Linked DNA regions of Homo sapiens: region 1 is linked to region 2. The links come from fine-mapping of genetic effects on gene expression. A gene starts in region 2. The other region holds a variant in brackets. All regions are shown on one strand. Distances are between the middles of the regions.

Region 1 (5,391 bases), 31 kb before region 2:
TAGAGGAAACTATTATTTGACATATAAAATTATACTTTTCTAAGCAAAATGCACAGCCATAATCATAGTTCTCTGAAACCTTTATCATTTAGCCCCAGTCTTCTCTGCTCCTTTTTTATCAGTCCCGTAAAAGTTCACCAGTTTGTCGGGTTGGAGGCAAACCTTGCAAAAACTGTAAGTTTGTAGTGACTCAAATTTGAGAAAGACCTGTATTTGGTTCTCATTTATTTGGGAGTTGGGAAAACATAATTAACTTTTGATATTATACTACATCTCTTGTATTTCGTTACTTTTTGATAGTAGTGCTTTTTTTTTTTTTTTTTTTTTTGGCCTGGAGGAAAACAACTATTCATTTATTTCCTCCTTTGGTGCCAAGTTTTGAAATTAGCTGTACAAAATTCTCAAATAGTTAATTCATGACCTATGCACAGGCACATTCTCTGAGGATAGAAAGGGCAATTTTGTTCCATTTTTCTTGGGTTTGGGGTCATTTGCTACATAAATATACATTAGGATACAACTTAAATCTTGAAAAGAATAATTTTAATTATAAGAAAAAAGTAAATACTTTTAGACATTTAAGAAATGTTTATTATCCCCTTGCTTTTCTTGATATATTTACCCTATAGTACATATATCCATGAATAATATACTGTTTGGTTTTGCCACTTTTGTGATAAAAACGGAAACATACTCTGAATTCCTTTTTAAATTTTTCACTTGCAATTATGTTTTTTGAAATTAAGCCAACTTGATGTAGAGATACATTTTTCACTGCTGTACAGCATTCCATTGAATGAACATACACATTTTCCATTCTACTGTTGATGGGTTTTGTGTTGTTTTTGTTTTTTGCTGTTATAACTATTCTTGTGTATGTTTCCTGGTGTACCTGTGTGCATTTCTGTGGCATATACCCAAAGTGGGATTATTATTATGTTTAACTTTACTAGGTAATGCCAAATTGTGGTAGCACTAATTTATGTTATCACTAGCAGTTCCATATTTTCACTAATACTTGGTATAATTTTTTGTCAGCCTGGTGGATAGAAAATAGTATCACATTAATGGCCTTGCTTTGCATTTCCTTTGCGTTTTCCTACTAATGAGATTGAGTGTCTTTACATATACTGGCCATTCAGATTTCTTTATTTGTGAAATGTTTGTTCATGTCTTGCCCATTTTTCTATGATTATTTGTTCTTTTTTTACTGGCCTATAGGAGTTCTTCACATATTCTGAATCTCAAGAGTTTGTCAGTTATATGTATTGCAAATTCCACATTTCTTTCTTTTCTTTTTCTTTAGCCTATTTCCCCTTATTTCAGTTCATTCCTTTGTCTGTTCCCATTTTTCTTATTACCCCTCTGTTCTGTCACAAAATGTGATGAAGGCTGCATGCCCAACTCTGAAGGCAAATACTACCACCTGATCAATTTGTGTTCTTTGAGTACCTGCCAAAATCAAATAAAACCAGATGACCATTCAGAGATAGTATTCTTGCCTCCTATCAGCCATAGCTAACCCAGAAAATCATGGCCATGGTCCTCTTTGCCTTTGCTTTAAAATAATAAACTTTTGCTTTTTTATTGTGAGATAATTTTTAAAAACAGCATATGTATTACTTTTCTATCCCCCCCTTTAAAAAAAAATTAGAGCAGAATTAAAAATGCAAACTTCAGAGTACAAATTTGACATCCCTATAATTTTCTAAGTTTGATGTGTGTAATGCCTTCTTTTATACATTGAATTCAAAGCCCCTGTCTCTCCCCATCAACACACATGCACACATGCACAAACATGAACACACATATCTCTCTACCTACACCTCAATTTTGGAGCCCAGCCTTACAATGATATCTGATATCTGTCTTCCACATGGCTCAGAACTATTTATCTCAAAATAGTGACCTATAAATTCTCTTTTTCTAAAGCTCACTCCTAACACACTAACAGAGATTTTACTCTTAATAATTTTTGTTTTATAAACTTACTTTTTAAATGAACCATGCTCTTTTTCTGCTAACATTTTAAAACTTCCAATCAGTTATATGGGATTAAATAAATATTTAGAGAAGCCATCAGGAAAATTATCTGCAGAAGTCCTAAAGTCACTTGGCACTTCCATGAAAACAATTTCCCTTTTTTGGGGAAGCGACTGGCCCATAGTGTGTAACCATTCTAAGCTAGGTACACCGAGGTACAAATGCCTTCTTTAAAGAAGTTGGATAGGGCCGGGCATGGTGGCTCACGCCTGTAATCCCAGCACATTGGGAGGCCGAGGCGGGCGGATCATGAGGTCAGGAGATCGAGACCATTCTGGCTAACATGGTGAAACCCCATCTCTACTAAAAATACAAAAAATTATCCGGGTGTGGTGGCGGGCGCCTGTAGTCCCAGCTACTTGGGAAGCTGAGGCAGGAGAATGACATGAACCCAGGAGGTGGAGCTTGCAGTGAGCCCAGATGGAGCCACTGCACTCCAGCCTGGGCTACAGAGTGAGACTCCGTCTCAAAAAAAAAAAAAAAAAAAAAAAGAAGTGGGATATATGTGTTTTTATGTAAAATGGTAACCTAAGACTTGAGTGGAATTACAATGCAGATTCCTTTTGATCAAGGAAAGGTACATTATCATGTTGCTTAACTCCTGTGAAATGCTACAGTATTACT[A/G]TATTTGAAGAAGGTGTGGATGATGAAATATCTTCCTAAAGTTAGAATATTTATTTGAAGTTGACAACTGATTTGTAATTTTGTTAAATATTTGTAGACAAGTGTGTGTTTAATATCTTGAGCATTCCACAGCAAACTTTTTTTAAAAAAATATTTTTAGAGACAGGGTCTCACTCTGTTGCCCAGGCTGGAGTACAGTGGTATGATCATAGCTCACTGAAGCCTCAAACTCCTGGGCTCAAGTGATCCTCCTCCCTCAGCCTCCCAGGCAGCCAACCCTACAGGCAAGTACCAACCCACCTGGGTAATTTTTTAAAAACATTTTTATGTAGAGCTGGGTCTCAGTATGTTGCCTAGGCTGGTCTTGAATTCTTGGCAATTGATTTTCCCACCCAGGCCTCCCAAAGTGCTGGGATTACAGGTGTGAGCCACTGGCCTGAGTCATTATTTTGATTCAAGGGCAGGATCAAACCTATAATCCTTAAGCCTGTTCCTAAAAATAATATTGAGATATTTCTTAGTCTTGATTTTTTTCCCACCTTTTAATTTCTATATTTGGCCAAAAGGATATTAAAGAGTGGAATAGGAGACAAACTTTAGAAATACAGGGAAAAGAGAGTAGTAATGGTTATATTCTGAATATAAGCTCTTACTTGGATACTAATCAGTATTTGATTTCTAGGAGGGTGGATGTATAGGGAGTAAGTGAACTTACAAAGAGAAAAGGGTACAGGGTAGGCACAACTCTTTATAGAACAACCAAAGTTTCAGGACAGTTTCCTAAGAACCTCGAGTTTTCTTCATGTATTATTTATTGTTTAGTACACAGACGTGACCAGCATTGGAATTTATGTGGCCTCATTGCCTGCCTTTTTTTTTCCAGGTTACCACCTATTTGCAATTCAAGGAGAATATAAGACAGAGAAGAAAGCTGTGAATGAATTTCATTTGATTAGCAATAGATTGGACACTCTACTGATCTTGCCTCTCTACAACCTCTCTTCCACCTGACCTCTAAATGTTGAAGTGTTTCAGGAATTGTCTTAGACCTTCTTCCTTATCTACACTTCCTCTCCAAGTGAGTCCATAGAATTCTATGACCTGGAAACTCCCCAGTTTTTCTCTCTAGAAATTCTCGACTTTAGTCTCATATATCTGGTTGTTGACTTGACATCTCTACTTGGATGTCTCTGAGATACCTTAAACTCAATATGTGTAAAATATATATAGCTCTTGATTTTCCATTCTGCAAAAATACCATTCATTTCTTGGCCTTTCTCCTCACAGTCTTTGGCACTACAGTTCACCTAGCTGCACAAACCTAAAACTTGGGAGTCATCTTTATTTATTTTTCTGTAGCATCTTCATTCAAGTTCATCAACCCAACTTCTCTGTACTATAAAATTAAAATAATACCTTTTTAGTAACATGGAGGATTAAAGGAGTTAATAAATAAATGTAGCCTTTGAATAGTGCCTGGCACATAGTTAACACAATATAATTGTAGCTACTACTGCTACTGTTGTTATTACTTTTTATCCCCTACAGCATCAACCCCCTGCGGCAAGCCACCACCTTTTTCATGGACCCCTAGCTTTCTGATTTCTGGGCATCCATTGTTGTTTTGCTATAATCCATTCTCCACAGAGCCGGGAGCATTCTTTCAAAAAGAAATCAATTCACACTTTCCTGCTTTATACTCTTCAGTGGCTTTCCTTTGCTCTTAGAGTAAAATCCATACACAGCACTGCACAACCTGGCTCCTGCCTGTTTACCAATCTTGCATATTATGTTCCAGTCTTCTGGAACACATTCACCAAGACTTTTCTTTCCTTCAGGCTTTTGTATTTGCTCTTCTTTCAGTATGGAATTCTCTTCCCCAAGCTGTTGGCATGTCTAGTTCATTTGCATTTTGGGCATTTCAGCTCAGCTGTCATCTCAGTGACCAGTTTTTATCTGAGGTAAGAAAATGAAAGGTTTTCATTCATACCCACCTTCTCTTGCTGTAATAGCTATCTGGTTGTGCCTGTAAGAGCCAACTGTGTACTCCAGGCAAAACCAAGTGGACCACCTTAGCCAAGAGGCTGAAGACTATTCAGACAATCAAAGAATCCTGCTTTCAGCAGAAGGCTGAAAACAATGCAGATAACTGAATGTTGTTTAGTGTTGAATTTGATAGGAAATAAAGGGATAGTGAAACTTAAATCTCTATGTTTTACAAGTTCTGAAATTTCCTTCTTGACCTTGAAATGAATCTAATACAACTCTAGCCTCAGATTGAGGAATCCTCCCTAATTTTGGCAGTCTTTAAGAGTCTCTAACGCAAAGTAATGACTACCTACTTAATATAATCCAGTATTTATGGCCGGGCGCAGTGGCTCACGCCTGTAATCCCAGCACTTTGGGAGACTGAGGTGGGTGGATTACTTGAGGTCAGGAGTTTGAGACCAGCCTGGCCAACACAGAGAAACCTGTCTCTACTAAAAATACAAAAATTAGCCAGGTGTGGTGGTGGGCTCCTGTAATCGCAGCTACTCGGGAGGCCAAGGCAGGAGAATCCCTTGAACCTGGGAGGCGGAGGTTGCAGTGAGCTGAGATCGTGCTACTGCACTCCAGCCTGGGTGACAGAGTGAGACTCTGTCTCAAAATAATAATAATCTAGTATTTATAAATGTTTTATATAGCTACAGAAAGTGCCTCCATTAATCTTGAAAAGTCCGAACT
Region 2 (5,391 bases):
ATATCAGTTAACTTTTTGTTTGTTTGTTTTTTTGAGACGGAATCTCGCTCTGTCGCCCAGGCTGGCGTGCAGTGGCGCGATCTCGGCTCACTGCAACCTCCGCCTACCAGGTTCACGCCATTCTCCTGCCTCAGCCTCCCGAGGAGCTGGGACTACAGGCGCCCGCCACATTGCCTGGCTAATTTTTTTGTATTTTTAGTAGAGACGGGGTTTCACCGTGTTAGCCAGGATGGTCTCCATCTCCTGACCTTGTGATCCGCCTGCCTCGGCCTCCCAAAGTGCTGGGATTACAGGCCTGAGCCACCGCGCCTGGCCCAGTTAACGTATTTTTAGAAATGTATAGGCTCAGTAATTTGAATCAACTGCATATATAACAATTACCTTCTATTCAGAACAGAACATTATTTTTGCTAAATAAGAGTTTAAGTCACAGCAACCATTATTGGTGAATGAGGGGTTCCACGTAAGTAAATTTTCTGGGTAACTAAAATTTTTTCCACTTAGTGTTGGCTAAATTTTTACTGACATGCAAAATAACTTTAAAAAATGTATCCCATACTTGACATCTTTGAGGATTCTGACTGCTGCTAATTCCTCTCTCCTTTTTCTCTCCACTTCAATGGCTTTCATAGAATTTCATTCTCTTCATTCTCTTCTTTTCTCTGATGCCCTGCTAACCCTTTAAACAATGGCATTGTCGGGGGTTCTATCCTATGCCCTAATATTACTACACAATCTTCTTGAGCAGTGATGATTGCCATTTTGGTTTAAATGTACACTACAGTTAGTTAAAGACATGGTTTAACTATACACTATAACAACACACTATACACTGATGATTCCCAAATATACATCTTCAGCCGGGCTTCTCTTGAGCTTCCAACCTACATATGCAATTTATAACTCAACTCCAAGGCTTGGACAGGATGTGGCATGACCCCTTAAACTGTGATCCAATCAAACTCATTATCTCCAAAGCTGCTCTTCCTCATCTTGTCTTTGGTCCTAGTTAACGGGATCACTATTCTTCTAGCCACCCACGAAATCCAGAATCTTCCTCAACCTTTACACATTATCTCTCATCCCACACTGTCAGTTTCAAAGTATGCTAAATATCTCTTGTGCTCAACCCATTCTATTTCCAATGTTAATGTCCTTGTTCTTAGCTGTCATTTGCAACAAAATCTTCCTAGAAGCTCTGCCTCCATTCGGATCTCATTACCACTAAAAAAGTATTTTTGTTGTGCAAACTGAATGTCATTTCCAAGCCCAAAACCTTTCTGTGGCTGATATCTGTGTTACCTATAAGGGAAAGTCCAGTCTTTTTCACATGGCATACAAAGACCTCCACCCCGTTTTCTACTATTTCCTATCTCAACCCTTCTATCCTACATGCCTGTAATTTATATTTATTTGACATTTTGGAAACATGCTATGCTGTTTCCTACTTTTTGGCCTAACCCCCACTGCCAGTGGAATATGCTTCCCTGCCCCTACCCACTGATCCCACCCTTTTCTTTACCTTGAAAACTACTATTCATCCATTGGGACCCAACTTAAAAGCATGCTTCCTCCATGAAGCCTTCTTTGACCTTCCTCAGTAGAGTCATTCACTCCTCTAAATTACATACAGAGATGTAACACTGACCATATTCTAATGCAATTACTCCTTTACAACTCTATCTCCATTAGATTAAGCTCATTAGCGGAAAGGATCACGTCGTGTTTATCTCTGTATTTCCTCTCTCCAGTCCCAAGCAATAGTGAGGTGTTTACTAAATGTCTGATGGCTGGTTGTCTGCAGGCGTGGTTAAAGTTAGCTCTAATATCCCTCCTTTGGAATGAAATATGTATACTTTGTGATTACTGTGTTAATCAGAGTGCTTTTTGTTAACTGCCAGGTTTTGGTTATATACCTCATGTTTGACATTGTCAAGAGTCTGACTTCTGGATAAGTGGATTGTTCCTGTACCATGTACCTTCACAGCATATTCTATTCCAACTATGATCAAAATGACCGAACCACATTTTTCCATTAAGAGCTGTGTGCCTTTGAGTAAATTAGGTTACATGTGTTCCCTAAACAAGTTGTTACTTTTTCCTGACTTTATGTCTCTTCAAAATATATACCTCCCTCCTCTTTCACTCCCAATATTTTATCTGTTTCAAATCCTTTTTGGAACAGAGGTTTAAAAAATATACATGTATACCTTATTTAAATTGATACTACTGTTTTCTTTCCTTATTAAACACACATCCATGTTGTATTTATCTTTCCATTGTTACAATTTATCTCAAGGTTTTGCACTGATTTGACATAGATTTTTGCTAAAGTGTATCTAGGTATTTTTCTGATTTTACATTGCAATTGTAGTGTTGAGAGACTGCCAGGTGTTTACCCTAATGACATAGTTAATGTCTTTAAACTTAATTCTCAATCTACCTCACTTCTTGGTCCACAATCTCTCTGCTTCCCAAAGACCCCTCTTAATGAGTAATATTTGAAATTTGTTTTTCTGAGGCAAAATTAGTGTTTTCTAAAGTTTTGATCACTGATCTCAAAATCAAGCATTAAATAATGGGTATGATACTAAAAATAGAATATATTTTTTCTATTCCTTTTAAAGGTTATAAAATCACATTACCTGATTAGACTGTGATAATCTTAGGATGGTGGGAAATTCATCTTTAAACTCATCTACAAGGTCCATGATTGCTTTCTGGATCCCCTCGACTAAGACAAAAAGAGGTTAGGAAAAAGAAAACTTTGAAAACATCCCCTAAATGTTTCAAAAGAACATGAAACACTTGATCAAATTCCTAGATGACTCGGAAAGTAAAGGAACTCTAGGGGATCTTATTCCCAATTGTTCCCACACCCATACGCCCTTTACAACAAGATTGTGTATACTTCTTCCAGAAAAGTTCTTCAACACCTGCCCACATATCCACCCAACAGGTTTGATTGGCATGGTGAGTTCTTGCTTGGGTTCCTAGTCCTTAACAAGCTTGCAGGCCTGGGTAATGCTTGTCCTAGTCTGCCATTAGTGAAAGATGAGGGTAGCCTTCCACTTGGGAAAGCCAGCAAGGACAGAACTCACAGCTCACTGCTGGAATTCTTTGTTACTGTACAATAGGCTTCCGAGAACCTGCTACAGAATCTTCTGACATCACTCTGGCAGTGAGAGGAAGAGGAGTGTGTTTGGAGGCATAAGGGAAGGAGTGAGGGGATTGAATAATAAAGTACACTAAGGAGTTCTATGATATAAGTTGAAATTTGTCCCAAATTCTGCAGTGATACCACAAATAATGGATCATCTGAGAACAAAAGGTCCCTTTGAAAAAAAATGGCATGTGCTTTAAAAGAAATGCTTTATATATGATGCCAAATAGAAAAGAAACACCAGCAGTGAATTCAGAAAGACTTCTGAATAGATTGTTTTTGCTTCACCAATGAGGATCACTAGGTCAAACTCGGGCAAAACTGTAAAGTCTTTGGTTTCTCTGCTTTATAATCTCAATCTCTTTTCTTCATCTTTTACCCTCCTAGTACCCTCACATGTCAGATGACCATTAGTTCCCCCGATCAAATATGGGAAGAACTTGATACCATGCAGACTTGATTGACTGCCTAGTTTTATATATATATAGTTTGTTTGTTTGTTTGTTTTTTGAGATGGAGTCTTGCCCTGTTGCCCAGGCTGGAGTGCAGTGGCGCGATCTTGGCTCACTGCAACCTCAGCCTCCCGGGTTCACACCATTCTCCTGTCTCAGCCTCCCGAGTAGCTGGGACTACAGACACCCACCACCACGCCTGGCTAACTTTTTGCATTTTTAGTAGAGACGGGGTTTCACCGTGTTAGCTAGGATGGTCTCCATCTCCTGACCTCATGATCCGCCTGCCTCGGCCTCCCAAAGTGCTGGGATTACAGATGTGAGCCACCACGCCCGGCCGACAGCCTAGTTATATTTTAGTGTGAATGAAATAGTTGGTTAACCTGAATCCCATTCTAATTTGAAGCCCTCATATTTAATTGCAGCTAGACCACTTTCTTCAGCAAGCATAAAGCCACGGCTGCTGAAAGTGTCTTCATGGGAACAGTTTGGGAAAGAGAAATCTTCATCCCAGGATTCCTCTAGCATGGGAAGCCTGAAAATCCCCAGCTCTCATGGTGTTCTTAGTCCACAATCTGCCTTAGAACACCCTCCGCCATACCACATTCACCTCTCCTAACCAAAATAGAACCTGCTTGCCTCTCATGACTCTCATGGTTAAGATAACTATGCCCTTAACATTTGGAAAGTGCAATCCATCGGTACAAAGAAAATCATACTAGACAATGATGAATACACACGCTGGGAGTCTATGAGATAATGAAATACTTTATCTGTCCTAGCAAGATAGTTGGTCATCAGCGTCCACTGCAGATGAACACCTGGCAGATCCTTCTCTTTCTGGTCTTCCTCCCTGTTCTCCATTCTCCTCCCTTCCACCATCCCCTAGTTCTTTTTATCCACTGATTCCAATGTCATTGCCCAACTGGTTTTACCCAATTTTCTTCTCTTTTCATCAGTCCTCTCCCTCCTAGGCATCCTATAAAATTAACAAATCTAGAGGAAAAGCATTTCTCAGGCTAATGTTTACTGCACTTAAAGCATAAGCAACTCTTTGTGTTTGCTAACAACGTCCTTTTTGTCTTTTCTTACTTAAGAGCCCTCTCCCCAGAAGTAGAGTGGTGAAAAATGACAGACGGTGATGGAGTAAGAAAATCTCACCCTGCAGCACTTACATTATGACCTTATAATATTTTGGTTTGTGTTTAATTATCTTCTTATGCCAATAATCTTATGCATCTTATGTTATTTCAGATAATAAACTTAGACAAAAGAACCCACAATGTCTGTTTTTTTCTTGTTAATTCTTCATTATGTTATTCTTTAGAGTTCATAATAGAGTACCCCATAATTATAAAATAAACTAGGAAACAATTAAAAATATCTCCAAATAATTTTTATGACAGCTGTACAGATTTATCTGTACTTAAAAGGCTTTAATACAGAAGAACAGAACTTTTGTTTTGCACACAGCTTTGAAGAAAATGAACATTTTACATAATCACATATAGACAGTATAAACTTAGTGATAGAAATATAGAAATCTGGGGGTCAGTCAGACCTGGGTTTGAGTTTCAATTCTATCACTTACCAGGCTTTGCCGTGGGCAAATTACATAAGTTCTATAAGCCTCTTACCTTTTAAAAAGGAAACAATACTTGATGAACATTAAATACCCAATAAGTGGCAGGTTTCATTAAATATGCACTGACCTTTTGGTTTTGGAAATTTTGCAAAACTTGGGTAAAACTCAATGCTGGGCTTGCCCGATTCACC

Alleles and levels. Alleles are on the strand shown, and positions count from the first base shown. SD is a standard deviation of normalised expression in the study named.
For the expression in subcutaneous fat of the gene that starts at base 3,109 in region 2, G is the low allele of the variant in region 1 and A is the other (small effect, 0.33 SD a copy in GTEx).

The links. PIP is the estimated chance that this variant, and not a neighbour inherited with it, causes the effect. A credible set is the group of variants that fine-mapping cannot tell apart.
Region 1: its variant is the best candidate, but not a certain one, in a credible set for the expression of SPATA9 in subcutaneous fat (GTEx, PIP 0.52).

The regions. Positions count from the first base shown.
Region 1 is chr5:95,648,587-95,653,977 of GRCh38, forward strand. It overlaps RFESD (Rieske Fe-S domain containing), which reads left to right. Exons shown (of 6, transcript NM_001131066.2): 2 at 3,551-3,745; 3 at 4,531-4,628. The coding sequence starts at 3,686. It also overlaps a transcript of SPATA9 not described here. Among named protein-coding and RNA genes, the nearest start is that of RFESD, 4.5 kb to the left of the region's middle. The variant A/G (reference allele first, on the strand shown) is at 2,668.
Region 2 is chr5:95,679,883-95,685,273 of GRCh38, forward strand. It overlaps SPATA9 (spermatogenesis associated 9), which reads right to left and starts at 3,109. Exons shown (of 5, transcript NM_031952.4): 1 at 2,912-3,109; 2 at 2,646-2,734. The coding sequence starts at 2,972. It overlaps LOC105379090 (a long non-coding RNA gene), which reads left to right. Exons shown (of 2, transcript XR_948588.3): 2 at 4,713-4,891.